Regions from separate parts of the Homo sapiens genome. Here region 1 is linked to region 2. The links come from fine-mapping of genetic effects on gene expression. Tissue or cell type: whole blood. Region 2 holds a variant in brackets; the other region holds the start of a gene. All regions are shown on one strand. Distances are between the middles of the regions. Region 1 holds the start of AKAP1 (A-kinase anchoring protein 1). Region 2 overlaps AKAP1 (A-kinase anchoring protein 1).

What was found.
Region 1: AKAP1 starts here. The variant in region 2 is fine-mapped to the expression of AKAP1 in whole blood (TOPMed, PIP 0.95).

What each region holds. Positions count from the first base shown.
Region 1 is chr17:57,077,280-57,092,623 of GRCh38, reverse strand. AKAP1 (A-kinase anchoring protein 1) reads right to left here and starts at 7,378. Exons shown (of 11, transcript NM_003488.4): 1 at 7,226-7,378. AKAP1-DT (AKAP1 divergent transcript) reads left to right here and starts at 7,586. Exons shown (of 3, transcript NR_186437.1): 1 at 7,586-7,784; 2 at 13,214-13,337; 3 at 13,921-14,330. RefSeq lists enhancers at 663-1,212, 6,300-6,802, 7,842-7,921, 12,835-13,573 and silencers at 6,332-6,421, 6,702-7,001, 7,042-7,621.
Region 2 is chr17:57,106,175-57,120,253 of GRCh38, reverse strand. It overlaps AKAP1 (A-kinase anchoring protein 1), which reads right to left. Exons shown (of 11, transcript NM_003488.4): 2 at 13,076-14,079; 3 at 10,096-10,229; 4 at 8,330-8,456; 5 at 7,636-7,763; 6 at 5,618-5,795; 7 at 3,993-4,143; 8 at 3,327-3,394; 9 at 1,800-1,873; 10 at 1,210-1,272; 11 at 1-4. Among named protein-coding and RNA genes, the nearest start is that of AKAP1, 28 kb to the right of the region's middle. RefSeq lists a silencer at 5,892-6,186 and an enhancer at 10,784-11,385. The variant C/T (reference allele first, on the strand shown) is at 10,337.

The DNA of each region.
Region 1 (15,344 bases), 28 kb after region 2:
AGGTAAACAGGGGCTTGCTTTTACCTTTAAGTTCTCAGCGAATACACTTGCCAGGAAGCCCTGTGGCCACACCACACATTAGCCTTACAGAGCCACCACTAAGGGTAAGGGATAATAAGCCCCCCTTACTCTCAGGCTCCCTCAAAGGAACCTGTTCCAATAAGGCAGTCCAGCCCCAGGAGGCGGACACACACAGCCTACGTAAGCCCTTGCCACTTCTTTGAATCAGACTTTGCAAAAAACAACCTTGCTCTCCAGCCAACATAAACCATAGGCAACAGAGGGCCTTATAAGGCTTGAAGCTTTCTTAATCAGAAACAGTTAGATGGGCTGGAGTTAGCAGCTCCAAGTTAGAGGGAAGGAGGAACTGAAAAGGAGAGAAGAAAGGGTGGCCTAGGGAACCAGCAAGCTTGCTGGTCAAACTGCTTTTTCATCCCTCTTCAGCTTCTGTGTCATCACAGTAAAGAATTCTCACCGGGGGTCTATGGCCATGCCTCCTTTCATGTTTGCATTTTGGTTTAAGCCAGAGGAATCAGACTGCCCACCAATCCACACTATTAGAGAGTTTTTAAGTGTCCATTTAGTGGCCAGCCTTTAGGCTGGGCAACTTCACACAAAAATGAAGTTATGGGGCCAGGCACGGTGGCTCACACCTGTAATCTCAGCACTTTGGGAGACCAACATGGAATGATCACTTGAGCCTAGGAGTCTTGAAATGGGTCTGGGCAAGGTGATGAGACCCCATCACTACAAAAAAAATTTTTTTAACTAGCCAGGCATCATGATGTGCACCTATAGTCCCGGGTACTTGGGAGGCTGAGGCAGGAGGATCCCTTGAACCCAGGAATTCAAGGCAGCAGTGAGCTATGATCGAGCCACTGTACTCTAGCCTGGGTGACAAAGCAAGACCTCATCTCTAAATAAATAAATAAATAAATAAATAATGTTTTTAATGGGGTTATGTGGTTTCCTGAAAAATTGCCTGCTGGGGCAACAAGGGGTCCTCACTCCCCAGGCAGCAGTCTGACACCTAGCTCCCCAGCTCCCCAGCTCCCCGGGCTGCCTCAGTCACATGCCTGCCTGCACCAGGAGGCAGGCTGGGCCCCTGCCACAGATCCAGAATAGAAAAGGCAGCCCTGGAGACCTCTTAAGCAGCCACCCCCTCCACACACCCCTTGGCAGCTTCCAGGGTGGCTTTATTCTCCTCTCTCTCCTGACGAGGCGGTGGCAGCAGAGACAGCAGCAGCTTTGGCACCAGGACCTGTCCCGTACACTGCAGCCACATGCACTTGGCCCTCCTAAAGGATGCCACCTGCTAAAAATAGCACCAGCACATGCTTGGCCAGGTGAGCCACACCAAAGCCAAAGGACAAAGCAGGGAGGTTATTTGCAGCACGGCCTTTTCTCCCAGAGACAGCTAAAGGCACAGCTGAGTGTGGGTCTCCCTCCAAGGCAGTTCAGGAAAGTGAGAATCACTCCTGCTCCTTTTTCTTGGGAGTGGCAGAAAGGAGGGGCAAGAAGGAGTGTACAGAAGACTGAACTGTCCTTCAGATCTGTCATCGACCCAACCTCACAAAGGCACATCCAGGCCCAGGCCAGAGAAGGGATGGGGGCTGGGGCTGTGCTTGAAAAGATCTTACTGCCTCCTCTAATCAGGAGGCCAGCTACTGCTGGGTGACAGCCTTTGGAGGGCCAGGAGATGGTCTGTGACCTCCAAGTGAGGTCTGACAGGTGTCGGGAAATTAGTGACTTCAGGATTGTCTTTTTCAATCAGCTCAGTCTTCAGAGCAGTTTCCCTGAGCCCTCAGGCACAGCTTTTTTTATTCATAGTCATTACTTGTGCATTTCAAAAGCACCCGATGGTTGCATAATTCTGATGATAAAATATGGCTTTGGAAAGACAAGAGAGTTAAGAGTAGGATCCTGTACTTCAGTTTCCCATAAAATGAAGATGTTCTGTAATAGGGAATATCTCCCTCACAGAGTTGTAACGAGGCTGAACACACTTAAGTCAGACTCCATATGTGGGATCAATGATTTTAATCTTTGTAAAACCCAGTTTAGTTTCCTGAATGAGGATGTGGTGATAAAGGGGCAGTAAATAAGCAACAACCAATGAGCATGGGGGGCGGCAGGGGCAGAGGAGGAGGTGGGGAGCACGCCCCAGCCCAGGTCCAAGCCAGTCCAGCCCTTGCTGTGTCCAGGGACCAGTTTACTCTACTCGGATCTTGTTTCTTCACCCACAAACTAATCACTGTACTAACCTCATAGGGCTGACAGAGAATAAAAATGACACAGAAAAAAAAAAGCCACTAATATGCCAGTAGGTGCTCATCAGTAAGTGTCCTTTATGCTGCCTGGCTCCAAGAAAAGAGATCTCACATTATATATACCAAAGGTCAATCTAGCAGGGTTCAAACAAAGCACACCCAGGACTAGAAGAGGGGGCATCTGGAAACAAAGAACTCCCCACCCCTGCCACAACAGAACACGTTAGCATCCACGCTGTGGCCCCACTCTCCCCCAACACCTTCTGTGAAGAATGGCCCCTAACATTTAGGTGGACTGGAAACAGCAGAATGAAAACACAACCTCGTTTAAGAGAAGGGCCGCACTGAGATCTGTAGGAAGTCATCAGGTGGGTGAAGGACCAAGTAACAATATGTTGACATCTGACATTTGGAGACCAAGGACAAACCAGCAGGGATCTTTATGATAATAAACGGCTTCAAACCAAAAGGGCTTTCTAAGGGCTTAGCATCTGGACCTTTGCTTCACGCTCCTGTCCCCAGGTCCTTTCTGAAGGTCCTCACTCAAACTGTTTCAAAACTGTTCGTCCACTCCCAACTGGCAGACTAGAACTCACTTGTAGTATGCCATGGAGACAACCAGTAGATAATTTGTCACCAAAGCTGTTGGGTTTATGGACTCTGGAAGACTAAGCTCAAACATGTTATGCTTTAGAGATTTACAAGTTGAGACAATTAAGCTTTTAGAGTTGGAGAAAAAAAAACTTTCTAGGCCGGCGCTGTCCAACAAAACTTTCTTCGATTATGGAAAATGTTCTTGACCTGTACTGACCAGGACGGCAGCCACTAGCTACACGAGGCCACTGAGAACCTGAAATGTGGCTAATGTCACTAAGAAATTTTTTTAAAAATACTTTGAAAAGTTTAATTAGTCACACAGCTAGCAGCTACCCTACAGACAAGGCAGCTCTAAACTCCCCACACCCAGGACAAATTTAGGCAAATAAAGCTATCTTTAAAAATAAAAAATATTTAGAACAGTAGCACACCTTAGAGCTAAGAACTTGAGATGAACAGTGAGTTGTTTTTTTTCCCCTTAAGTCTTTGACATGTACTACCCATTGAGCTGTGCTCCCCAGCCCAAACACATCACTCCAGTGGCCCCTGGGCACGTTTGGTCTAACTCCAAGGCTCCCAGGACCATAATCTGAATACTGATAATTTTGACCAAACCTCTTTTAGCCACTGAATAAACCAAGATCTGGAAGGCCAACCAGCCTGCCTAGAATCACCGCCAGGTTTCAGCTCTGAGAGCTGCAGCAAGTCCCAGGCTCTTGTCAGCTAAGCCCAGCAGTGAAACAAGCCTCATCAGCCCTAGGTTATACATATTTTTACTTCCAGGACTCACCTCAGGGCCCTTCTTTGCTCCCAAGTGCAACTGGGCCTTAGTGACACCTGGCTCGGTGAACACAACCAGCCACCATTACAGAACAGGGAACACAATGTTTACCACTGACTGCTGCAAACTATCAAACCAAGCCGGAAAAACAACCAGATGGTGAAGACCCGGACAGAATGTGGACAAGGCTGCACCATTTAGTAAAATGAAAAAGTTAAGGCAAAGGACACCTTGAAAGCTATTTATTGCTGGAAAGCTAGTTCTCAGAATGCTGAATGATAACACACACAATGTTAACAATCTACTTAGAAAGCAGCAGAAAGATTAGGAGAAAAGCCCAGGGATTTAAGAATATTCCTTGGTTCTTCTCACAAAAGCCATCCAGAGGACCTAGTTTTAACTCCACACCCACGCTTCCTAGTTCCTCTACCCCTCAATTTGAATTTGTGTGACAGCCACTGAAACAATCCAGAATGACCTCCAGCTTCACCCTCACTGTTCTCAGAGGTGTGAGGATTAAAGGATTAGTGTGCTCATAACTCACCTAGCACAGTAACTATCAAGAAAGAGGCATCCTCTCAAGTTTAGCTCCCAGCTCCCCCACTACCTGTTTCTCCAGCCAGACTCTGTCCTACTTCAAACATGCTCACTGATGATGTTTTCCACAGCCCAAGCTTCAAATTAGGTACCAAGGCCAGGAGGTTCCTTCAGTGGGATGCCACATGTGATGGGAACTTAATGTTAAATGATCATAAAAGTGAAAACTGCCTGAGGTATTACACCAGGAAGGAACATGGAAGAAACAGAACTTGCCCTAAGAAGCAAGATTTAGGACTAAAATACACCCCCCACCATAAAGATGAGCAACTCTCAAACAGTATATGAGATGATTTCAATGGGACAAGATGCCCACAGGATCTACTACCTCCCCATAGTGGAAGAAAACGCCTGAGAATGACAAGCTGAAGGTATTAACTCATACCTGAAACAACTGACTTCCCCACAATAGGAAAACAGACCAAGCTACAGAAAGGCCCAATCATTCAGACTCACAGGGAAGATTAGGAAGGAGTGACCTAGGGGAACTCTACGGCCAGCTCTCTGGGTACATTGGCTACAAGCTGCCTGCTCTTCAAAGCCCTGAAATGCACACACAATCAAGTCATGTTGCAGGCTGGGAGCAGGAGGCTAGCCAGCAAAGCTTAGGGAAACCAATTCGTTTTTCCTCCCAAACAAGCTTCTGGGTCAGAGGCTAAGGAGAGGGGTGCTTTTAATAGAATTCAAGTCACTCAAGTAATTCAAGAGAAACAAAGTCAGTCTCAGGGATTGTTCAGGGAGGAGAGGGGAAGAGCAATGCTTAAGCACCTATCACAGTCCCCAGTATCACAAATATGATCTCCATTTGTCTTTAGGACAGGAAAAGGGAATACTGTAGAGGCTAACACCAGCCTTCCCCTAAAATATGGCTGCAACCCAGCCTATGTCCAAAGCTCAAGAATAATTTGGGTTACCAGGCAGCAAGATAAATTGCTTTTAAATATTGATGTTCAGCAACCTTACACTGGAGACATATCGACTTCAGCACCTGAGCAGGCCACTTACAACAGACACCTCCACTGTCACCCTGCAGTGGCCAAGTGAGAATGCATTTCCTAGAAACAACTGGGAGATGGGAGAGATATTCCTACAAGGAACTAGACCTAGACACAAATCCATTAGACCTGTCTCACTCATTGGCTAGGATCTGTTACCTGCAAGTTCTGAGCCATCATCTGACAACATGCATGAAGACAGAGCCTATTAATCCAGTAATGGACTCAAGCTTTAGTGATTTGCATGCCTGTAGGATCCAGAGGACCTCCTCTAACCTAGGGCCATATTTCAAAGAGAATACACCCAAGAATTATGCAGAACCTACAAAACTAGTTAGAGGTTAAAGAAAAGTTCAACACAAGTCAAAAGGTTCCCAAAACATAACTTCACTTGCTTCCAGTGCTCAGGGTCTTAAATAATCAGCAGGTGAACCACTTCAATGCCAAGATCAGAGGAATTATATAAATGATCAAGTCAGGCAGCCTTCTTCATTTCAAAGATGTTCTGTACCTTTAAGAGCAAAGTGGATGGGTGGTGCTAAGAGTCCAAGCTTTGCTTTCTAAATAAAGAGTTAAAAAAAAAAAAGGTACTAATTTGGGAAGGACTTAGCAGTTACAAGAGCTTGTAAGGCTACTAGTTGCCAGAATTAATAGCTTTTTGTGAACGGTGTTCCTTGATCAGTAACTAACAGATACTGTTGCACCAGGTCCAGCAGCCTAGATTTCACTGGAGACAAATCTAAACACGAAGTAACGCGCACTACAGTAGGGGAAAGATACCCAGGTTAACCTCACTAATTGCCCTGCGCATACACCCTACCCAGCTTGAGAGGCCTCGACTCGCACCTGGAGCGAAGTCCACCGGGTTTGTGTTAACGGCGGCAGGAAGGCGCCGCCACCCAGGACATCCCCCAGGAGAGGAAGATCCCGAAACGCCCAGGGCTCCCATGCCGTTCCGAGTCGCCACAGCACCGCCTACCACGATCAGCACCTTTCTTCTCCTATCCCTCCCTGGAAGGGAAACAGGAAGACCTTCAGCTAGGGCACAAAAGAGTTGAACGCCAGAAAGCCCGCGTTCGAGGCATCCAGCCACTGCCTCTCCTAGCACATCGTAACCCCAAAACTGGCGCGGTCCCTCCAGATCGCAGACCCCGGGCCCTGGGCCGCAGGCGGGGCCGGACACGTGACCGTCGGGGCCCCCGGGCGTGAGGTCGGCAGACACCCCAGGCTGGACGGCCTCCACCCCTCCGGACACGCCTGCAGGGGCTACGAATGCAAATTCCCCCCGAGACGCCCCTGAGCCTCCGACCTCCAGACCCCAATTCGGTTCGAACGGTCCCTCAGCCCGAAACACGGTTGGATCACAACCGGCCGATGTCCCGGCCCATCTTCCCAGTTCCCCTGGCTCGCCGCACGGAACTCCCAGGGGCTGCGCCGGCGGGCGAGCCGAGGGTGAGAAGTTGGGCGAGGCTCCAGAAGTGAAGGGGCAGCTCCGGCTCAGACTGTGTACACACGACCTTTGAAAAGTAAACGCCCGCGGGGCTGGGCGACCTTGGGTGGGACGCGCTCGGGTCAGCCTCGCAGGCGGGTGTGCACGCTCCGGTTAAGTTGAGGTGCAGAGAGGCGACCCGGGCGTCGCGCCCTCGCCCCCCGCCCCCGAGGACAGTGACGCGCGTGGGGAGGACGGCGCGGCCGCAGAGCGCCGCCCAGAGCCGCGCACACGCGATCTGTCAGGAGCCCGCGGGCAGACAACCGGCGGGGAAGGACGAGAGGGGGCGCAGACGAGGGAGGGAAAGATGGGCCTGCCTGACAGCGCGCGGCGGCCGAGAGCCCCCAGGACACCTCTGCGTCCGGAGCGTCCCGCCCCCGGGGTACCTGGAGGGCGCGTCGCACCCTGCACCTGCACCTCAGGCTCCCCATCGCCCCGACCCCGCCGCCTTCGGGTCTCCGGCAGGGGGTCCCCGGCGCAGCTGCCCCCGACCTACCAGCTCCTCGGCTACCATCGGGGTGCGGGATGCGGAGTCCGCGCGCCGCCGCCGGCCCCCGGCTGTGCCCCGCGGCCCGGCCCGCAGCGCCGCGCTTCCGCAGCTCCCCCACGTGCTAGCCCAGGCGGGTGGAACACAGAGACATTAAATACTGAAGACGCGCGGCGACGTGCCCGCAGCGCGACGCAGGCCCCGCCCCTCGCCCTTGTGCCCGCGCGCTCCCGAGCCCGCCCCGCTCACCTGCGCGTGCGCGCCGCCGGCCGCTCCCGGCAGTGCCTCCGCCGCGCCTCTCCCAGCTGCGCCAGAGGGGGCGCGGTCTACAGCGCTGGGCTAACATCCCGCCGCCGCCCGGAGCCGGGTCTTGCTCGCGCTCTCGCGAGAGAGCCGTCATCTCTCCGGTGCCCGGGAGAGGGGCCGGGCGGGACGGTACAGCAACCGGAGGAACCTTGATTCCCTGCCCCGCAAGCCCAGCACCGGTTTTGCCGCCTTGTCTCGAAGGGTCAACCAGGCCATCTCCTGCCTCGGGACGGAGAGCGCCCTGGAAAAGGCGGAGGGGCCGGTGAGGAGCAGGGCTTCCCTCGCTTCGGGGCTTTGAGCTTCCCTGTGACCGTCATTTCCTTGTAGCGTATAATTGGGTTGGCCATTAATAATTGCTCGATAACTGCATAATGGTGAAACCTGGTACCACTCAAATGCAACTTTCTTGCTCGTTTTCACAAGTCGATGTTATCGAAATGAAGCACTTTTCTCTGAATTGGTGTGGGTTTTGGAATGATTTTTGCAGAGATAGTCACGGTGAGTCACTATCTCTGCCAGGACCTTGGGAAAATAAATTCCTCCAAAATAAATGGAGAGGGTAGGGTTTTGGCTGTCCAGCCCTGCTGTCATCCTTAAAACAAAGTGACTTTAAATGAACATTTGTTTGGCCAAAATATAGAAAATAGATCATGCTAAGAACTAACAATTACTTGGGAAAATGCTTAATCTTCACTAGTGATCAAATGCAAGTTTAAATGACAGATGCCATTTACTATACCTAATGAGATTTAAGTCAAATTCATATATATATGAATCCCAATTGCATGGTGTGGTAGATGTCAGGAAGGAAACAAATAGGAAACTGACATAGGAAAGAAAGAAAAAGAGCCCTATTTTTTATTTTTTTTTTTTTGTGAGACGGAGTCTTGCTCTGTCGCCCAGGCTGGAGTGCAGTGGCACGATCTCGGCTCACTGCAAGCTCCGCCTCCCAGGTTCACGCCATTCTCCTGCCTCAGCCTCCCGAGTAGCTGGGACTACAGGCGCCTGCCACCACGCCCGGCTAATTTTTTGTATTTTTAGTAGAGATGGGGTTTCACCGTGTTAGCTAGGATGGTTTCGATCTCCTGACGTCGTGATCCGCCCGCCTTGGCCTCCCAAAGTGCTGGGATTACAGGCGTGAGCCACCGCGCCCGGCCAAAAAGAGCCCAAATGTTTTAGGTCCTGTGGTCAGAAAAGGCCTAAAATGAAATTTAAACTGAGACCCATTGGATGAGAAGGAACCAGCCTTGCAAATTGTATACGGGCATAAGGGTTGGAGGAGTATTCCTAGCAGATGCACAACACAGGAAAAAGCAGGAAACAACTTCTGGTAAACTGGAAGACCAGTGTGGATGGTATGTATTGAGGGAGGGAGTGTCAGGAAAGGAGATAAAGAGGATCGTTTCTTGTCTTTGTTTTTTGGGGGAATAGGGGCCTGGGCTGCCTTAGTAAATACTTAGTATTTGCCATAGTAAATAGTGAAGCTTGGATTTTATTCTATTCTGTTCAGTCCCAAAGCCAGTCATGACTCTACCTCAGGGCCTCCCTCCACATGGAATATTCTGCAAAGCTCACTGTCTTCACCTCTTTCAAGTCCTTTGCTCAAAGGTCACCTACTCAGACTCAGTGAAGTCTTCCCTGGACTCTCTGTTTTATTTTATTTTTTATTTTTTGAGGAGTCTCTGTCACCCAGGCTGGAGTGCAGTGGTGCGATCTCAGCTCACTGCAACCTCCACCTACCAGGTTCAAGCGATTCTCCTCCCTCAGCCGCCAGAGTAGTCCCACTACAGGCACGTGGCACCATGCCCAGCTAAAATTTTTTGTATTTTTAGTAGAGACAGGGTTTCACCATGTTGGTCAGGCTGGTCTCATACTCCTAACCTTAGGTGATCTGTCCGCCTCGGCCTCCCAAAGTGCTGGGATTACAGACGTGAGCCACCGTGCCTGGCCTGGACTCTCTTTTAAATTGTAAACACACACACACACACACACACACACACACACACACACTCTCTCTCTCTCTCTCTCTCCCCATCCCTCACCCCATCTTTCCTTCATAACCCTTACCCCTGTCTAGACTTCATTTATTTCATGAGGGCAGGGATTTTTGAGGGCCTGGTACATAGAGGGTGTTCAGTAAAAATGTGTTTCGTGAATGAATAGGAAGCTATTAAAGAGGGTTAAGTAGAGAGTGACATAATTTCTGTTTTTAAAAGCAAGCTGTAGCTGCTGTGGGAAGAACAGATTAGAGAGAGATCAGTGTCGAATCAGGGAGAGTAGTGAAAGAGGATGCTGGACGTGGTTCAGGTAAGAAATGATGCTAGTTTGAGCTAAGGATTATGGCTCTGGGGATGAAGACACTGCTTTGGACTTAAGATATATTTTGAAAGAGGAGCAGACTTACTCATGTTGTTGGTGGTAAAGAAAAAGGAACAATGAATGCAATGAATGATGATTCTTCTGGCTTGAGTTACAATGTGAACTGGGGTGCAATTTCCTGAGAAGGAGAAATCTGAAGGCAGAGAAGTGTTGGTTTCATTTTTGACCCATTGTTTTTGTGACATCAAAGTATAAATAGTAATTAGGTTGGATATGCAAGTCTGGAGCTCAGAGGAGTGGTCTGAATGGGAAATACAAATATGGTTTGAAAATCATGTTTAAAAAGATATATTAAAGACAATGCTAGGCCGGGCACGGTGGCTCACACCTATAATCACAGCACTTTGGGAGGCTGAGGCCGGTGGATCACGAGGTCAGGAGTTCAAGACTAGCCTGGCCAACATGGTGAAATCCTGTCTCTACTAAAAATACAAAAGTTAGCCAGGCATGTTGTGCACCTGTAATCCCAGCTACTCGGGAGGCTGAGGCAGGAGAATCACTTGAACCTGGGGGTCAGAGGTTGCAGTGAGCTGAGATCGCATCACTGCACTCCAGCCTGGGTGACAGAGCAAGATTCCATCTCGGGGAAAAAAAAAAAAAAAAAGGAAAAAAAAAAAAGGCAATGCTTAGCAGTAGTGGAGGTAGGAATAGAAAGAAACTGAGAAAATGATGTCCAGGGATGTAAGCCCTGGAAGCATTGGTAGGAAAGAAAAACAGGAAGATGGAAGGAGTAAAACAGCGAGATGGGGCTATGAATATGGTTATGAGAAAGAAGGACAAAGACCGGCGGTGAATGAGAGAAATATGTCAGTCATACCCGATGCAAGGGGACATGGGCACAGCCTGCCAGAAAAAAGGAATGAGGGAAGAAAAGAGGAGTGTGTTAACTGGAATACTAGAGAAAGTGCAAGATACAAGTCAAAGGGGGAAAGGTGAGAAAATAGGATTGACTACAATCACCATTAGACCTCAACCCAGTACCTGTGGCTGAGGAAGTATCCACAAGGTCTGAACAGTTCCAAGGTCACCACGGTGGCCCTAATATAAGATTAGAAAGTAGAGGAATGAGAAGAGAGGTGAGGGTGGAAGGTGATCCTAAGAACTTGGCCATGAGGAAAATAAGATAAGGTTGTTAGGCTTCAGCTTTGTCAGCTCAAAAATGGGCAAGGTCTGCCTAAGGCAGGAATTTTAACCTAGGATGCATAGGAATTTAACCTGGGACATCAAGGTTGTCCACAACACCCTGAAATCATTTGCATGATCTTATAAATACGGCATTTTTTTCGGTACAGATTAGTTATGGATCATTTCTATCAGACTCTAATCCTGACCTTAACAACAACAACAACAAATTAGAATCTGGTGAATAGAGCAAAACATTTTATCCAGAAAGGAGTATGTCAGTCAGAATAAGAAGGTAAAAAATAAAAGTATTCGAAGGAGACCAAAAAAATAAAAATAAAAATAAAAATAGAAGAAGTAGTAAGTGTCTGTGAAAGGAAGAAGGTGTCCAATCTCATTTAATCAAGAAGCTGGGCTCTCTGAGAAGTCAAACCAGTCAGATCTGAACCCAATGCTATTATTCATTTAAATTCTATGACCCAAGCCCCTCACTCTGACTCTGTACCCACCCAGCAGCCTTCTGATCATTCTCACTAAGGAGAGAAGCCATGATCGGACTGATGAAAGGCACTGGTCCACCAATGACATTTTTATCATTATAAATTACATAACCTACCCTCTCTCATTTTCTGTATCTTGTACATCATGTGAATATTTTTAGTATGAGTCAGCTTTCAGTTCTGGGACTTGAACATGGTGAAGTTTCTGAACCTGTTTTAAAGCTAAGTGAGGGCTTGACACAGGACCATGGGAAAATCCATCAAGGTAAATGCCACCTTGTGAGTCTCTTTTTAAAAGGTAGTTAATTCTCATGCATGTAATCCCAGCACTTTGAGAGCCCAAGGCAGAAGGATCGCTTGAGCCCAGGAGTTCAAGACCAGCCTGGACAAAATGGCAAAACCCCATCTCTACAAAAATTTTAAAAATTAGCTAAACAGGCTGGTACTTGCCTTTAATCCTTGCTACTTGCAGAGCTGAGGTGGGAGGATTGCTTGAGCCCAGGAGGTTGAGGCTGTAATGAGCTATCATCACACCACTGCACTGTAGCCCAGGCAACAAAGTGAGACTCTGTCTCAAAAAAAGAAAAAACAAAAACAAAAAACAGTTAGCTAGTTAATGAGCCGGGTGCAGTGGCTCATACCTATATAATCCCAGAGCTTTGAGAGGCAAGGCAGGAAGATCTCTTGAGGCTAGGAGTTCAAGAGCAGCATGGGCAATGTAGCAAGACCGTATATCTACAAGAAAATTTTAGAAATTAGCTCGATACGTGGCCAGGTGCGGTGGTTCACACCTGTAATCCCAACACTTTGGGAGGCTGACGCAGGAGGAGTGCTTGAGCCTAGGAGTTCAATACCAGCCTAGGCAACATAAGAAGACCCTGTCTCTTACAAAAAATAAAAAACATTAGCTGGGCATGGTGGTGCTCACCTGTAGTCCCAGCTACTCAGGAGGCTGAGGCAGGAGGATCTGCCTGACTCCAGGAGGCTGAGGCTGCAGTGAACTGTGATTGTGCCACTGCATAGCAGCCTGGGCAACAGAGTGAGACCCTGTCTCAAAAAAATTTAAAAAAATTTGCTGGATGTGGTGGTGCACTCCTGTAGTCTTAACTACTCCAGAGACTGAGGTGGAGGGATGTCTTGAGCCCAGGAGTTCAAGGTTGCAGTGAGCTATGATCACACCACTGCACTCCAGCCTGGGCAACATAACAAGACTCTGTCTCAAAAAAAAAATTAGTCAGTTGGTTTTCTTCTCTTGGCAGTCCCTCCAATTTCAGGGGCACATGTTTGAGAAATGCCCTACTTTTCTATTGGAAGCATCTACAGAAAGAACTTTTTTAGTGCTAATAAATACGAACTGTCTCCTTTATATGTATACACTGAAGGAGCCCTCCCACACTCCGCCCCACTCCCAGTTCTCTTAAAATGGAGATGCATTTGGTTATGCCCCAGGACCATGTGTGCCTGCAGGGAAGAATAAATAACCCACTCCTAGAGAAGTCAATGGAAAGAGCTGGGGGAATAACAATACTAATGGCACTTAAGTAACTAAGGCTTAATGAGCACTTAATGCCCAGCACCATGCAGAGTCCTTTATCCTAATCCTCCATCAACCTCAAATACTAGATACTCTTGTTATCTGTATTTATTTCTGTATCACAGCAATCTGTATCACTGTATTTCTGTTCCACAGACCTTAGTCACACAAGAGCGATGGCAAGATTTTCACCCAAGCCATCTGACTTGGAACCCATGGATTAACCAACTGCCACTGGAGGCAAATCCAGAGACCAAGGGAGCAGTTTATACAGAAACAGGTCTGTTATGGGTGGAATTAGGTCCCTTCAAAAGAACGTTGAAACCCTAACCCCCAGTACCTCAGAACGTGACCTTATGTGGGAACAGGGTTATTGCAAATGTAATTAGTTAAGCTGAGGTCATCCTGGGATAGATTAGACCCCTACTCCAGTGTGACTGGCGTCTTTATAAGAAGACAACCAGGCCGGGCGCAGTGGCTCACACCTGTAATCCCAGCACTTTGGGAGGCCGAGGCGGGTGGATCACAAGGTTAGGAGATCAATACCATCCTGGCTAACACGGTGAAACCCTGTCTCTACTAAAAATACAAAAAACTAGTGCAGCATGGTGGCATGTGCCTGTGGTCCCAACTACTTGGAAGGCTGAGGTGGGAGGATCACCTGAGCATGAAAGGTTGAGGCTGCAGTGAGCTGTGATGGTGCCACCACACTCCAGCCTGGGCAAATTATGTTTTGGTCGGGCGCGGTGGCTCATGCCTGTAATCCCAATACTTTGGGAGGCCAAGGTGGGCAGATCGTGAGGTCAGGAGATCGAGACCATCCTGGCTAACATGGTGAAACCCTGTGTCTACTAAAAATACAGAAAAATTAGCCGGGCATGGTGGTGGGCGCCTGTAGTCCCAGCTACTCGGAAGGCTGAGGCAGGAGAATGGTGTGAACCCAGGAGGCGGAGGTTGCAGTCAGCCGAGATCGCGCCACTGTACTCCGGCCTGGGTGACAGAGCGAGACTCCATCTCAAAAAAAAAAAAAACAGAAGACAACCATGTGAAGGCAGGGAGACACAGAGACAGCACCATGTGACGACAGAAAATTGGATTAATATATCTATAAGCCAAAGAATGCCAGATCGCCAGCAAACCACCAGAAGTAAGGAAGAGGCAAAGAAGGATTCCCCTACAGGTTTCAGAGAGGGAGCATGGCCCTGCTGACACCTTGATTTGGACTTCTTCCCACTAGAACTGTGATACAATAAATTTCTGCTGTCTTAAGCCACTCAGTTTGCAGTATTTTGTTACAGAGGCCCTAGGAAATTAACACAGTGCCCTTCTTTCTTGAACCATGGACAGCAGTTGGTAAAAGGGAACGTGATGTCATTCAGAACATGATAAAAGAGGGCTGTCCGCTGACTCCCCTCTGAACCTCAGGTGCCCTGGCTTCCCAGGGCAGGAGCCCCATCCGGGGGCTGTGATGAAGGGGCCTGCTACCCAGGCACCATCACCACCACATACTACTTGGGAATTTTTTAGCTAGTTATTTAAGATCCTGATTCTGGTTCTGTTTAATGGGTGGCTGTCAGGAATATGGTTGGCCATATTTCCCAGCTTCCCAGAGCCCCCTCCATTCTTCCCAGCTTCTTCCAATTGGAATTTAGTTTAGAAATGGAGCCTAAGAAACTCTGCAGACTCCTTCAGGTAGGGTGAGGTTCTATCCACAGCCAATTTAGGTCCTTTAACTACAGCAAGGTTCATGCATGTAGAGAAGCAATTAAATCATCAAACACTGTTACTTACCTCATTTGATTCAATGGGAGATACCTTCTGGTCCAACTATTGAGATCCTCCTGGAGGCCACCCAACCATGCTGGATGCCTGTGTATGGGCATTTGAATTGCTTGAATCTGTAGGGAAACTGCAGTGAACCCTTTCTGGGTAAGGTTTGCAATCTCATGTACCATATTTATTTTGTTAGTTTGCATACCCTTAGGCACACAGTTGCAGCTGAGATGGTCTGAAACAGCAAGACCCAGAAGTCTCGCAGAATTTCAGGGAGACAGGAGCTTCCCTGGGGATGAGACATTTGGCCAAGGTGACCCACTCCTAGGAGTGATGGGGCAGAGTACATAGCAATATGAGAACTTAGACACTGCACCCAAATTTTCCATTGCCACCAACCTCCACACATCCCCTCCTATTTCTCTGGAACCATTTTCTGGATTTACCTATTCTAAAACCTAGCAAATTTCTTAGTAATCTCTGTCTCCCATTTGATCAGGCACACCAGTTTCCC
Region 2 (14,079 bases):
CCACCTAGAAAAGAAAGTTCCCTTAAAGCTTTTGTCCATGGCATCCTGGGGCCATCTCCCTAGCCAACATGAGTTCTCCCCTCCCCGGTTGCCACTGCAGGCAACAGATGTATGAGAGTAACAGTGTAGGCCAGACGCAGTGGCTCATGCCTGTAATCCTAGCATTTTGGGAGGCTGAGGCAGGTGGATCACCTGAGGTCAGGAGTTCGAGACCAGCCTGGCCAACATGGTGAAACCCCGTCTCTATTAAACATACAAAAATTAGCCAGGTGTGGTGGCAGGCACCTGTAATCCCAGTTACTGAGGCTGAAGCAGAATCGCTTGAACCCCGGAGGCGGAGGTTACAGTGAGCCAAGATCACGCCACTGCACTCCAGCCTGGATAACAAGAGCAAGACTGTCTCAAAAAAAAAAAAAAAAAAAAGAGTAACAGGGTGGGGGACATGGCTTATGCTCTAGCCAACAGGAACATTTATTTAAGTATTCTGTTGGCTGCTGTGGCATAAGGATAGGGTTTTTTTGTTTTTGTTTTTGTTTTTTGAGACAGAGTCTTGCTCTGTCACCCAGGCTGGAGTGCAGTGGCACAATGTTGGTTCACTGCAACCTCCGTCTCCCAGGTTCAAGTGATTCTCCTGCCTCAGCCTCCCAAGCAGCTGGGATCACAGGTGTGCATCACCACACCCAGCAGATTTTTGCATTTTTAGTAGAGATGGGGGTTTCGCCATGTTGGCCAGGCTGGTCTCAAACTCCTGACCTCAAGTGATCTGCCCGTCTCGGCCTCCCAAAGTGCTGGGATTACAGGGGTGAGCCACTGTACCTGGCCAGGATAGGCTTTTTAATATGCTGAAGAAATCTAAGCTTTCATACCATAAGATAGAGGACAGAAAAACTCAACAGACAGAAGGTCCCAGAAAGTCTCGCACAGGGTTTCTCCACCTTGGCGCTATTGACATTTGCGGTTGGATAATTATTTGCTGTGGGGGGCTGTCCTGAATACTATGGGATGTTTAGTGGCATCCTTGGCCTCTACCCACTAGAGGACACTGACATCACCACTGCCAATCAGGACATCCAAAGTGTTCCCTAGGAGGTGCTTGTCTACAGTTATATCCTCTGATTAACTCAAGAGGAAACAAATCCCAGGACCAGCTCCTAATCAATCCATTACTTCGGGCCAGCAACACAGAAGGAAAAGAAGGGCAGAACTTACTTCATCTCCAACCACACTCCACAGCTGAATCAGAGGAAGACCAGTTGGACTGTAACTTGTCACCTGAAGAAGGGGGGTGGAAAGAATAATATGGTTAGGTTTTGTGTCCCCACTCAAATATCATCTTGAATTGTCATCTCCATAATCCCCATGTGTCGAGGGAGAGACCTGGTGGGAGGTGATTGGATCATGAGGCGGTGTGCCCATGCTGTTCTCGTCATAGTGAGTTCTCATGAGATCTGATGGTTTTATAAGTATCTGACAGTTCCTCCTTCACATACTGTCTCTTGCCTGCCCATCATGTAAGACGTGCCTCTTCCCTTTCTGCCATGATTGTAAGTTTCCTGAGGTCTCCCCAGGCCCGCAGAATTGTGAGTCAATTACACCTCTTTCCTTTATAGATTATTCAGTCCCAGGTATTTCTTTACAGCAATGTGAGAACAGACTAATATCAAGTATTAGCTACTTCATGCACCTTTCCTTAAATACTGCTGGTCAATCCAGGGCCAAGCCACAGGAAAGAAGGCATTGAAAGGTCAGTTCCCAAGAACCCAGCCAGCCTGCCTCCCCCACCCCTGCCAACCACACACCTGAGCAAGCAGTGCTGTATTCCCCGTCATCTCGCTCATGGCGGCATCTGCTTCCGGTGAAAACTGGTCATCGTCTTCAGGAGGAAAAGGAAAAGCGGCATTTAGGCTCTCACTGAGGCAAGGCACCCTTGTCATGTACACAAGTTTCAGGTGCATTCCAAGTAGAATGCTTCAGATGCTGTGGAACTTGAGAACTGCACTGGGGAGATCCACCCAGGTCAGAGACAGAGCCTAGGCCTCCATATGACTCCCAGTGGATAAACTAAGGGCCGCTACTGCATGTTGCCCACTGGTGCAGCACAGACAACAGATGGACAGAAACTTCACCACTAACACCACCACCAATACCACCAGCAGCAGCACCACCCCCACCCCCACCAACTCGGATGCTGGCAGTGCAGAGCATATGTGTTCTTCCACAAAATTAGTAACACCAAGTGCTATCCCCACTTTACAGGAGAGAACACTGAGGCAAAGGTGGATTCCTGAAGGTCAACCAGCTCCCAAGTGGTGAAGGTGGGAATCAAACCCAGGCAGTTGGCCACACAGCCCAATAAGGCCAGCCACTCAGAGTGGGCAAGGCGCTGCGGCAGCATTCAGCTTTGCTGGATTACAAAAGTTACATAGAACACCATACCCAAGGCAAGCAGTGGCAAGGATGGGAGAGACAGGGGTTTACCAAGGAAGATCCGGGAAAATCTTACGAAGGAGAAAGTTTCAGCTGGGTCTGGACAGATCGCTTAGATGGACAGAAGCAGAGAGGAAGGAGGGGCAACAGCAATAAAAGAAGCAAAACAAAGATCTTGCCCCAGTGCTCCCTCTAAGCCGACTCCAGCTAGACTGTAGTATTTCTAACGCATGCAAATCGCTTAAGACAAGCAAGAAGGAGATCAGAAGGGGCAAACCTGGGGAGGGAGTGGGATGGGATGAACTATCACCTACAAATATAAAATTCCTAGCCATAAACAGCTGCCATTTCGCCACCCTCTACACACCAGATCTTAGGTTTATGTAATTCTCACAGCCAGCATCAAAGACAGGTACCATTCCCATGTTCTGGGGTGAAAATTGAGGCTAAGTCATTTACCCAAGATTTTGCCAGTCCTCTTCCCTCTGACAATGCTTTCATAGTCTAAGACACCAGATAGGGTGTCCCCACTGTGCCCTATGGAGCTATGGCCTGGCTGAGCAGTATCAGTGACCAGCACGCCCTCAACCACCGGGGCTAAGACTCTGGGTCTGGACTATAATCTGGAAAGTGCCTTTGTTGGAAGCCCCTTGATGCCTGAGGTCTGAGTACAGTCTAGAGCAGTGGATCTCAAAGGATCAGCAGCACTGGTCTCACCTGGGAACTTGATAGCAATGTAAGTTCCTGGGCCTAAGCCCAGACCTATTCAGTCAGAAACTCTTGAGTGGTAGCAACTTATGTTAGCATAAATCCTCCAGGTGAGAACGGAGGCTCTGAGAAAGACCTACTCTCAACAACTGTCCCCAACAATCCCCCAAGCCAAAGGCCTCAGCTGTTACCTGACAGGGGCATCACACTGTCCAGAAGGACTTCTGCTCCCTGAAACGGCAGGGTGACAAAGTCAGACCTGGGAAGGCAAGAAAGGAACAAGTTTAATGTGGACATGAAGGCTGACTCCACTCCAAGCCAGTATTCATCTTTGTACAGTGACGCCCATAACCTGGGATGCAGCAAAGCAGAGGGTTCGTACTTTGCAGGAGGCCACGGCTCACAGCACACCCAAACACAGCCAGCCGACCCTGCTGCAAGCCTGACCTCAGAGGGACTTCCTATGACAAATTCCTAAAAAGGAGCCTGCTTCACTTTTTTCCTTTTTTGTTGATGTTGTAGAGATGAGGTCTCGCTATACTGCCCGGTCTGGTCTTGAACTCCTGCACTCAAGTGACCCTCCCAAAGCGCTGGGATTTGCAGCAGGCCACCACGCCTGGCCCAGCTTCACTTTTGAAGGATGATGCTGGGGATTCTTCCACAATACAGGCCTTCTAGCTCAGTTTGGCTAAGCGAGTAATCGAGTTTGTTTCTATCAGACTCTGCTAAAACACAGTAGGCAGCAGGAGGGAAGAAGTAACCCTCACCCAAGCCCTGGCACAACTGAGCCAGCCACGCAGAGATCACGCATCCCAGAACAAGCAGGGCGTAGGCCTGCCTGAGGCATCTCCGCTCACCTGATTTGCCGGAGCACGTCTACTTTCACCCTCTTATATCCGCCGTAGTCCACGTATCGAATCTCCACTTCGTTGGTCTCCTCGTAGGAGGCAACCACTTGGGCTCGCCACCAGGCCCCGTCCGCACCAGGGGCGGCACAGATGACCGTTACTGCAGGGTAGGGAGCAGAGTGCGTGGAACGCCTGGGCCAGGGCAGGGCACCAAGGGCCACCTGGCCACTACCCACCTCCCTGCGTTACCTCTCAGAGGCCTGCAACCTCCACAGTGCAGGGGACAGGAACAGCAACCGGCCCCAAGCAAAGCCTCCCCCAAGCCCAAGACCAGCCGAGGGAAAAACCTGGATGTGAGAAGTTCAGCCTAGCAAGTGTGCCGCCCCCGAGGCCATCCAGACTGAGAAGCATTCAGTCTAGATCCATTACTCCAAAACTTCTGGGACCCAAGAGGGACACAGATGAATAGGAATAAACCAAGTAAATATAGCACTCGGGGAATGGGGGCCAGGGCCAGCCTTACATTTAAAAGAAAGTCCCTGAAGAAATCAAGTGCAGCAGATCTCAGCATCCTCATACCTAGGGTGTGCTCCAGCCCACAACTCAGCTGGAGAGCTTGACCAGAAGGGGCCTCCTGGGCCTAAACCCCCTTCTTCTAGCCTTTGCCTCTGGAAGGTGCTGACAGCACCTGGGCAGCCACCCAGGATCAAGGAGTCACTAACCCACTGTGGGTCAGAGGCAGACGAGACCAGGAGGTAAACGTTCCCAGCAGCACCCCAACAGCTGCCCACGCTGGCCAGGATGAGGACCTGTGACATGAGGCTGACTGTGCTGGGTCCTGACCCTTGGAGAGAACCCCTGGCAGTTACCCCTCAGGCTCCAGTTCAGTCTTTACTGCTGGGTTAAGGCAACTTTAGAGAAGCCAATGAAAACTAAGTCCTTATCCTTCCAAAAGGAAAAAATCCACACAAAAGGCTACAGAGATCACTTCAGAAGGTTTTCTACTGCACTGAGTGACCCTGCCATCCCCTGGTGAGGAATGGGTGATGTTCTGACATTCCATCCTCTGTGATAAGGACAACAAAGATAATAATGACAAAGGCTGGGCTCAGACCCCAGATCCTGCTCACTTGGGCAAGTCACCTGAGGCCCAGTTTTCTCATCTGTTAAATGGAGATGACCCAACACGCTGCACAGGCTTGTTGGACTTGGGGATTTTTTTGTGGTAACCATTATATGCATAAGTGCTTTATATGTAATACATACAGTATTCAACACTAATTCCTGGAACAAGTGGGTATCACCCCCTTTAACAGATAATAAATAGGTGGCAGATACTATGACACTGGCTTTGAGGGAAAAAAAAAAGAAAAAATTAAAAAAAAAAATTAGTGGCAGAGCTGGGATCTGAATCCCTGTGTCAAAACTCTACTCCAACACCCATCACTCTGCCAGCCAGTGGAAACCCCAGCTCTGCCTTGCCAGGAAACCCACCCCAGCTCCATAACAATGGCAAGAATTGAAGGATGCTGCTTCCATGAAGGATCGCAGAACAGCCTCCTCCTGATCAGGATCCAGGGCAGAACAGGCAACCCCAGGGGTCCCCCTTCCCGACCCCTCAGGGCACTGCTTACTTTCCACTGGGGTGGGCAAGGTGGGGATTCCAGGCTGAGAGTAACAGAGGTACATCTGCTGGTCGAGGCTGCGCAGCGCGTGGAAGGTAGGGTGTGTGTGCTGCTGCACGAACAGGTGCCCGGCATTGACCTGGTTGACCACAATGACCTCCACGGTGATGCCATCAGGCAGCATGAGCTGTAGAGGGGAAGGGGGAGCGGTCACTGAAACAATCCTTCTTATCTCATCTTTGAATAAGTCCCGAGACCCAAGGGCAAGTCTCTGGGCTAGCATATCTTTGAAAAGGGCAACTCAAGACAACATGGCACCCAGAAGGTAGAGGTTGAAGGACTACTTTAACAACAGAAAGTGTTCGACACCCCTGTGGCTGTTGTCCTGCAATACCACGAGCAGCCATTAGGGGCAGTCTCACCTCAGGGCCAGGCAGGGAGGGTCCCACAGACACTGGGCAACCAAGAAGCAACTGCGGAGGTAGTGCTGGGCCTTGCACAGGCCTGGGCAGGGTCCACCTACCAGCAGTGCCCTCCCTCCCACTTCTGTTGATGAATCTATAAGACCCAGGGAGGGCAACACAGGAATGAGGTGGCCGCTGAGAACAAGACTCCTGAAAATAAGCAGTAGGCAGGCCCCAGGCCCTTTAGCCAACTCCTGTGGACTGGCAGACAACCCCAGGAGCCTATGGTCTGACAGCATCTACGCTGCCCTCCCAAGAGCAAGCAGTGGCCTCAGGTCAGGTCCATGGTCAAGGTCTAGCAGAGTCTGCTTCCTATTTGCTCTCCCTCCTACTGCTTACCCTCCTGAGGTCAGGAGTTCAAGACCAGCCTGGCAAACATGGTGAAATCCCATCTCTACTAAAAACATACAAATTAGCTGGGCATGGTGGAGCACACCTGTAATCCCAGCTACTCAGGAGGCTGGGGCAGGATAATCGTTTGAACCTGGTGGGCAGAGGTTGCAGTGAGCCAAGATCATGCCACTACACTCCAGACTGGGCAACAGAGTGAGACTCTGTCTCAAAAAAAAAAAAAAAAAAAAAAAAAAGAGAGTGAGTCTACGACCGAGCCTCCTGGGAAAAAACTCTTGATTCAGGAGTAAAGCATAAAGTGGTATTCAGCCTACTCTCACATATCCACAGGAAAAAGATATCCCAATCCTTTCCCTCCAGCCCAAGGGCCTTTGCAAAGGGGAAGACACAAAACTGAAATGCCTACCATCCATAAAAAAACAAAAAAACAAAAAAAAAACACGAAGGAGGACAATTTCCTTGGAGCTATAGTCAGCCCATCTGTCCATCTGTGTAAAACGTAGTCAACAGTCGTTGGCCCACAGAATTCTGCAATTCTACTCCCAGTGAGATAAGACCCAACCAGGGCCAGAGGCACACGGCAGGATATGGGCCACGGCCCTGAGAGACCCTGCAGTCAGCAGCACACAGGGGCCCTGGAGATAGCAGCTCTTCCCTCTGCCAAACTCCTGGGGCAACCTCCCAAGAGTCACTGGACTTCCGGGCCTGGTGGGGAGTATTCATTCTTCTTTGTAATTTAGGCACCTCCTGGGGAGGGGAAGGGGAAGGAGATCCTTCACCAGGGCCACTGTTAAGGCCTGACTCAACCAGAAGAAAGAACAAGCGCCATCCAAACCCATGATTCTAGTCCCACCCAGGTCTCAGGTGGTGAACGGCGACCCTGGACACACCCAATCTCCTGTCCGAACTACACCATCCTTTCTAAGCAAACGCCTAGAAAACTTAAAAGGTGCCCAGGGGGAGAGCCAGGAAAAGTAGTCCTCCCATGTGGGGACCAAGAGGCCTCTGGTTTCCTGCCAGCGCTATCACCACCTAAGCCCTGTCCCCAGAACACAGTCCCATAGCAGAACCGACCAGCAGAGGCCAGAGAAGAGAGGGCGCAGGCACTCATGTGCACTTGGCCTTCTTAGCCTGAGGTCTGGGGAGTTTCTTGTTTGGGGTAGGTTTGGGGGAAAGTGGCAAGAAGTCCGGATCACCCAGTAGCACGCTCACCCAGGATGTCATCGGCAGAGAAGGCAGTGCCAGTGAAGGCAATGGGGGAGCGTAGATATTGGTGAGGTTCAGCTCTTTGAACTTCTTCCCAATCAAGTTCAGCGCTTTGTCTACATGATGTTGAGAGCCTAAATAGCGGATGGGGGCAGGACATACAATCACTGTAAGAGGAAACTCACACCCACACTCACAAAAACACAGCCACAGACCCCACTCCACTGGACTTTGCATAGAGTTCAAGTGCATCTTTGAGGTAACAAAACACTTAAGCTCTGCTTTAGGAAGAAAGGCATCTAAGCCTTTCAAATGATACCTCTGCCATTATGATCCATGCTTTCAATGCAACAGAAGAGGCAGGCAGCTGTGAAAATGCCAAGGGGGAATTGCACACAGGGCACTTCTGCTTTGAGAGAAGCCTTTATGGGGTGGTGGGCACTATGAACCCAGGACCCAGGCCCCGCCCAACCAAGCACCCACACTTCTCCTGGCCAAAGATCAGAGTAGGGAGGGACCTGAGTCTCCCGCAGGCACCTGAAATGGGGAAAAGGCTGCAGGGAAGATACCTAATGCTCCCTTCCCTGGGATGAGAAGCAGGGTTTCCTATTCCAAAAAGATAGCAATTGAAACTCAGATGCTATTCACTTCTATTTAATATTTCAGGTAAGAGGCAATACAAGCAGCAGATGTTACTGACCTTCTATGTGGCAGATCTGGACGCTCTGGGTGTAAGGCAGGGTTGAAATGTAGATCTTGGCACCAGATGTTTGCTTCAGAAAACTCACATAGCGCCCCTGCTTGCCAATTAGCCGACCGACTAAGTGCTTCCAGAAAGACAAAAAGAGATGAGAGGGTTAAAGGGAAACCAATTCCCTGGACACCCAAAGACCTACTTCTGTTTTACACAAGATCATGCTCAAACATATTAGCTGTTACCATGTCAGCATTTATTTTCCAGGACTATTCTAAGCACTTACATTTACTCATAGTACCTGTGAAACACAGATAACTTTATCACCATTCTGTATATGGGGAAACAAGCCCAGAGAGGCTAAGTAACTACCTTAAGGTCACACAGCTGCTAACCAGGAAGTCGAACCAGGCAGTCTGGCTCCAGGACCAAGCAGTTCCCATTTCATCCCAACAATGTGGCCCAGACCCGGAAAGCTGCAAAGGCAGCAGCATCTTCTCCTCTAAAAGCCATGCTGAGAAGTTTCACCAGCACACAGTTTCTCGATTTCTCGTGCCCCTCTCCCTCAAGTCTACTCAGATCCAAAGATAAAGGGGCTCGATTTGAAAATGAAGGTCTAAGAACCCTGGGCTCCCGCTGCCAAGTGACAGCAGGCTGAAGCCTGCAGAGCAGGAGGCATGCAGAAGTGCCCAGTGCGCCAGAGTTCAAGGCAGATAGAAGCAGCCAAACTTAGCCCTTACGTAAGATGGGCTCCCACACAACCGCCAACGACCCCCTCCCGGAGGAGCTACTGGGGACATGGTCCATCCTCAGGCACAGCCTTTCTCTTCATGCCCTTTGTAACCACTGAAGGAAAAGCAGGCAGGACGGATAACAGGGCCCCCCAGGGAGGAAACCACCAAGAGACCTCGCAACCCAGGGTCAAAACAGCCACTCTGACCCAGAGTTCAGACCAAGCCAAGTCTCCACCTGAGCACAGAGCCCAGGGCCCTGGGAGAATGCGGTCTGACAAATTATTTCTGAGCCCCAGAGATAAACATCAAGATCAAGCTAATATGTTGTAAGTTCTAATAGCAAGAAGCTCGAAACCACTTAAGCACTCAGGAATGGGGGACTGATGAAGTAAACTGACATCCACACAGTGAATAATGCAGTTACAGTTACATTTTCAAAGAATAACACACGAAAATTAAATTGTTAAATATTTAAAGTATTAATTAAAGCGACATAATCTCAGTTTTGTTTAAAAACCACAGGGTGCAAGATGAGAAGGAAATAAAAGTCTTTCACAGTCACTCTCAAGGGTAGGATTAGAGCTGATTTTTATTTTCTGCATGTATTTCTATACTTTTCAAGTTCTCTAAAATATGGATTTATGCTTTGCTCAATTATAAAATACACTTGGAGCACTTGAGCAGAGCTCAGTGAAGGGATTCTGGCTGGCCCCCACGGCCTTGGTGTTTTTTTTCCAAATAGATCTGAGCCCCAGAATATGCAAGAACCACCCCCAAGGGAGACACACAGGCCTGCGAGTTTGAGAAGTACAAGAATAAGATGCTCCTGGAGGCAGCTGGAGGAATTCCATGTTGCAGGAAGCTCTCTGAGCCTTGGCAAAGTGTAGCGTGTCCTTTCCCTGCGGCCTTTGGCTGACCCAGGGCTCCTTCTGGTTTACTGTCCCTCTCCCAGCCCCCTCCCTCCCTGAGGTCTAATGGCCCTGGCCCCAGGGAGCTTTGGGCTTACCACAGAACCAGCCTGGGGGACTCCGCCCCTACCTTTGGCACCTCGATCTCCCAGATGATGAGGTCGACCTTCTTAGGGTTGGAGCCTGCCTGGGCATTTTGGAAGCTCTCAGTCTTCTTGAGACTGCAACAGCTATCCACGGAATCCATGCTGTTCCTGTCAGAACCTGCAGGGGAAGAAGCAGCAGGCACGCACACACACAGACCCCACTCAGAGCAGCCAGTAACCAAGAACTTCCCAAACTCACATTCCCAGGAGGCCCTGCCCCACACC[C/T]GCTCCTCAAGCTTGGCAGGTGACTGTCAACTTACAGTCTAGAAGGCTCAGAACAACCCCAATGAAAGGAGAACTGGGGGTGTCGATACACCTAATTTTAGCCTGTCACTTACAGTCCCACTTGCTTAATTGGCAGCCGCACCCAGCCACAGCTGCTGGAGCAGAGACACAAGTGGTGAACTTGGAAGAGACAGACTGCGCCCAGGGAAGGGGAGCCCAGAGGGCGGGGGAGGAGACACGCTTGAGGTCCACATGGTCCTGAGAGCCAGACCGATGGACCACAAACACCTTGACACCCTTCCAACTATCCTACCCCCTCAGACCAAGGGTCAGTCTCCTGTCCCCAGGGCCCAGTCCCAGGGTCATAGGTACTGGCCTTCAGCCCAGCAGAGCTAGACAAAGTCCTCACTGGCCTGCCTGAGGGCCCCATTCTTATACCTAGCGGGGACCCGCTCGTTCCTCTGCCATATGTGGACTAAAAAAGGAGAGTCTCCTTTCCCTTTGCTTAGGCCTGATTCATGCAACTCTGAACACTCTTCTGGCTCAAATACTCCCTTGGTCAAAAGACTGAGCCAAAGCTCATGCCCAAGAAAACCCAATGGGAACAGACTCTGCTCCCGACCTGGGCTGTTCCACTCTCACTCAAGAGCGTGCCAAAGGGACCGTCACAAAAAAGCGGGTCCAGATCAGCTCAAGAGAAGTGGCCCTGGCTTAAATATGGATGACTCAATCACCAGAAATAGATCACTCCTGAGAGTCTACCAATTAGGTTACCTTCCACATGGTTTCTCCAAACCCTGAGTATAATCCTTTGCCAAGTAACCCATACACTGGATGCAGAGAACTAAGGCCCAAGAGATCCTGCTCCCAGCTAAGGAAGAATCACCTTCAAAATGACTTCCCCCCTTAACACTAGGCGCTTCGAACAGGATTCATGCAGGGAAAAGTACCCCTTCTGGGGGAAGACTGCTTGGCTAGCCTGCGGGAAGCATAACAGGCTGACAGGGGCTGGGCGAGGGGGCGGGGAGCTCTGCTCACTCACAGTATCCAGCCTCTGCCCCACAGAATGGGACTGGCTAACACCTGCCATCCCGATGGCTCCCAGCAGTGGCTCAGAACCACACCCGGACTCTAGCAGGCTGCACTCAAAGGCCAGCTTCCAGCTCCCTCAGTGGGGTGGTCCCTGGTCCCCTTCTCAGCTTCAACTTCCTCACAAACAAAGCAGGGCTGACATGAAGGTACATGCGAGGCACTAACCTCGTGCTTGGCACCCACCGCATGCTCGTGGACAGTATTACCTCATTTCCACGTGCCATCCCTAAACCTCCCTGCCCATCACCACGGCTTAGGTTCAAGCCTAAACTCAGAAGACTTCAACAGGTCTGAGTAGCTACTACTATCCATCTAGAGTTGGCAGACAAGGCTGCGGGGCTTGTTAATTCAGCTGAGGGGCAGTAAGCAAAGGGAAACTCCTTTATTCTTAAAAAATAAATAAAATAAAAATCACCCATTTTCAGATGCAGTATTTTAAGAAACATTTAAACATCCCGAGATTAGGATGCATCATATAGTATCTTGCCTTCTATAATCATGACTGGCAGCACTTTTTTCTTTCCAAGGTACATAAAAACAGTAGTGTCTTAACAGCATCTTGGAGGTGACAAAATGTAGCGTGTGGTACAAACTAGATGCTGCTGAAAGTGGTAAAATTCCCAATAAAGATTCCCAACCTACCCGGAGCTGAAATGGGAGGGAATGGCTCCAGGACAAACAAGTCAGAGAGCCACTCGGGATATTCGTGGCCTCTCTCCATGAGATAAATGAAAACACCCCAGGGTGCCTGCAGAAGCAGGGTCAGGAGCTGCTGACCTGTAAGTTAGCGGTCTGAACTGTCTACGCTGGGGTCAGCACTCGAAAAACCCAGGACACCTCGTTATCAAAGTGCCCCGCTTTCCCGGGGGTGGAGCTGCAACTGCACAGAAAGAAAATGGCTGAGGCTTTCTGCAAAGGTGACAGCGACAACTCAGGAAGCTCAAGCCTCCCACAAGTATTCAAAGCTGTGGCCGTTCTTTGGGCACTTACCCTGTAAGAGCTTCTGGAGAAGGAAAGCAGGTGAAGACATGGGAACAAGCACATGATTAAAAGGAAATAAAAACCATTCAAAACACTCACACCCATACCTGGCACTCAAGGGAAGTAAAGCTAAGGAGGCCTCTCCATTAAAACACACACACACACGCACACACAAAGAGGTTAGTGTTTAAAAAAGAAAAAAAAATGGGCTGGGCATAGTGACTCACACCTATAAACCCAGCACTCTGGGAGGCCGAGGGCGGAAGGATCACTTGAGCCCAGGAGTGCGAGACCAGCCTGGGCAACAAAGGAAGACTCCATCTGCACCAAAATAATAATAATTTTTTTAAACAAAGAAAAAGAGGCACACTAATGTTAATCAGCGAGCCCAACTTGGCGCTAGTTCCTTGGGAAGGGCTCACTGGGGAAGGTCACCGGTTGAGGAACCAAGTTACAGCTCCCATGACTTGGGGTTTCAGGGCAATCTAACTCCTCAGTTACCCACCAGCTCTACGCCGTGTCCAGACCTCTGCAGGTTGCGATAAAGAGCTGAAGAGCACTATGACTTTGCTGCACAAGTAGCAGAAGGGAGAGGCAGACTGGCAGCCTTTCTCCAAGAAATACTGGGAGCGCCCCATCCTCTAAACGAACCCGAGACCCTCCTACCTCCTGAATGATCTGCTTCCGCATCCATGGTCCATCCATCCTCAGCCCCCAAGTCTGACAACTCCCCCTTCAGCACCCCATTGCTGAAGGGCACAGTACTTTCTGGCAGTGGCGGGGTGATGGCCTTGTCCCTGGGGCTCGAGCTGGTCTCTGTGCAAGAGTCTTCAAGCCCTGAAGTGCTGAAAGAATCTGAGCAGTGTCCTGGAGAAGCCACCAAAGGGACACTTTGGCTGCTGTCTGACATGCAGGTGACACAGGTGGCATCTTCCACCAGGATGCCTGCCCGGTCCGGCAACTCTTCACTGGGGGTGGTCAGTGCCAGGCAGGAGGCCAGGGAGATGTGGTGTGCAGAGATATTTGGCTTACTGTCCTTGGTGGGGCTGGACAGAAGGCTCTTCAGGCAGCTCACGTAGGTCTTTGGTGGTGGTGAGCCCTCTGCTGGTAGGCCTGGCAAGGGGAGGCCAGCATCCGGCGGGGCAACAGCTGCCTCTGCTGTGGCAGGCTCCGCAGTGTCTGGGCCCAAGACAGTTTTCTGGTGAACTGGGACACAGCTCTCTTCCTTCTGCCCTTGGAGCTGACTGGCCTGACACACACGACCTGCAACCTTGCCAACCGTGGTGGCCAGCACCTGTTCGGTTGCTTCTGAGATCACTTGGGAGATTATCTGGAAGGCAGCCCGCTTAATCTCCTCATTTCTATCCAAGCCCTCCTCATTTCTATCCAAGCTCTCCTCATTTCTATCCAAGCCCTCCTCATTTCTATCCAAGCCCTCCTCATTTCTATCCAAGCTCTCCTCATTGCCCAGTTCTCCCTCGACACCTCTATCCTGGGCTTTGGCGTCTGCGACTGGGGGTGCTGGCGCCGCATCGTCCTTTGCCAGCTCTGTGTGAGCCGACTCGATGAACCTACTTGGCAACTTCTCTGCTACATACTCTTCCTCCTGCACTGGCCCCACCACCTGGGATGAGCTGCTCTTCCCCTTATCTTCTTCCCCCTCTAAAGAG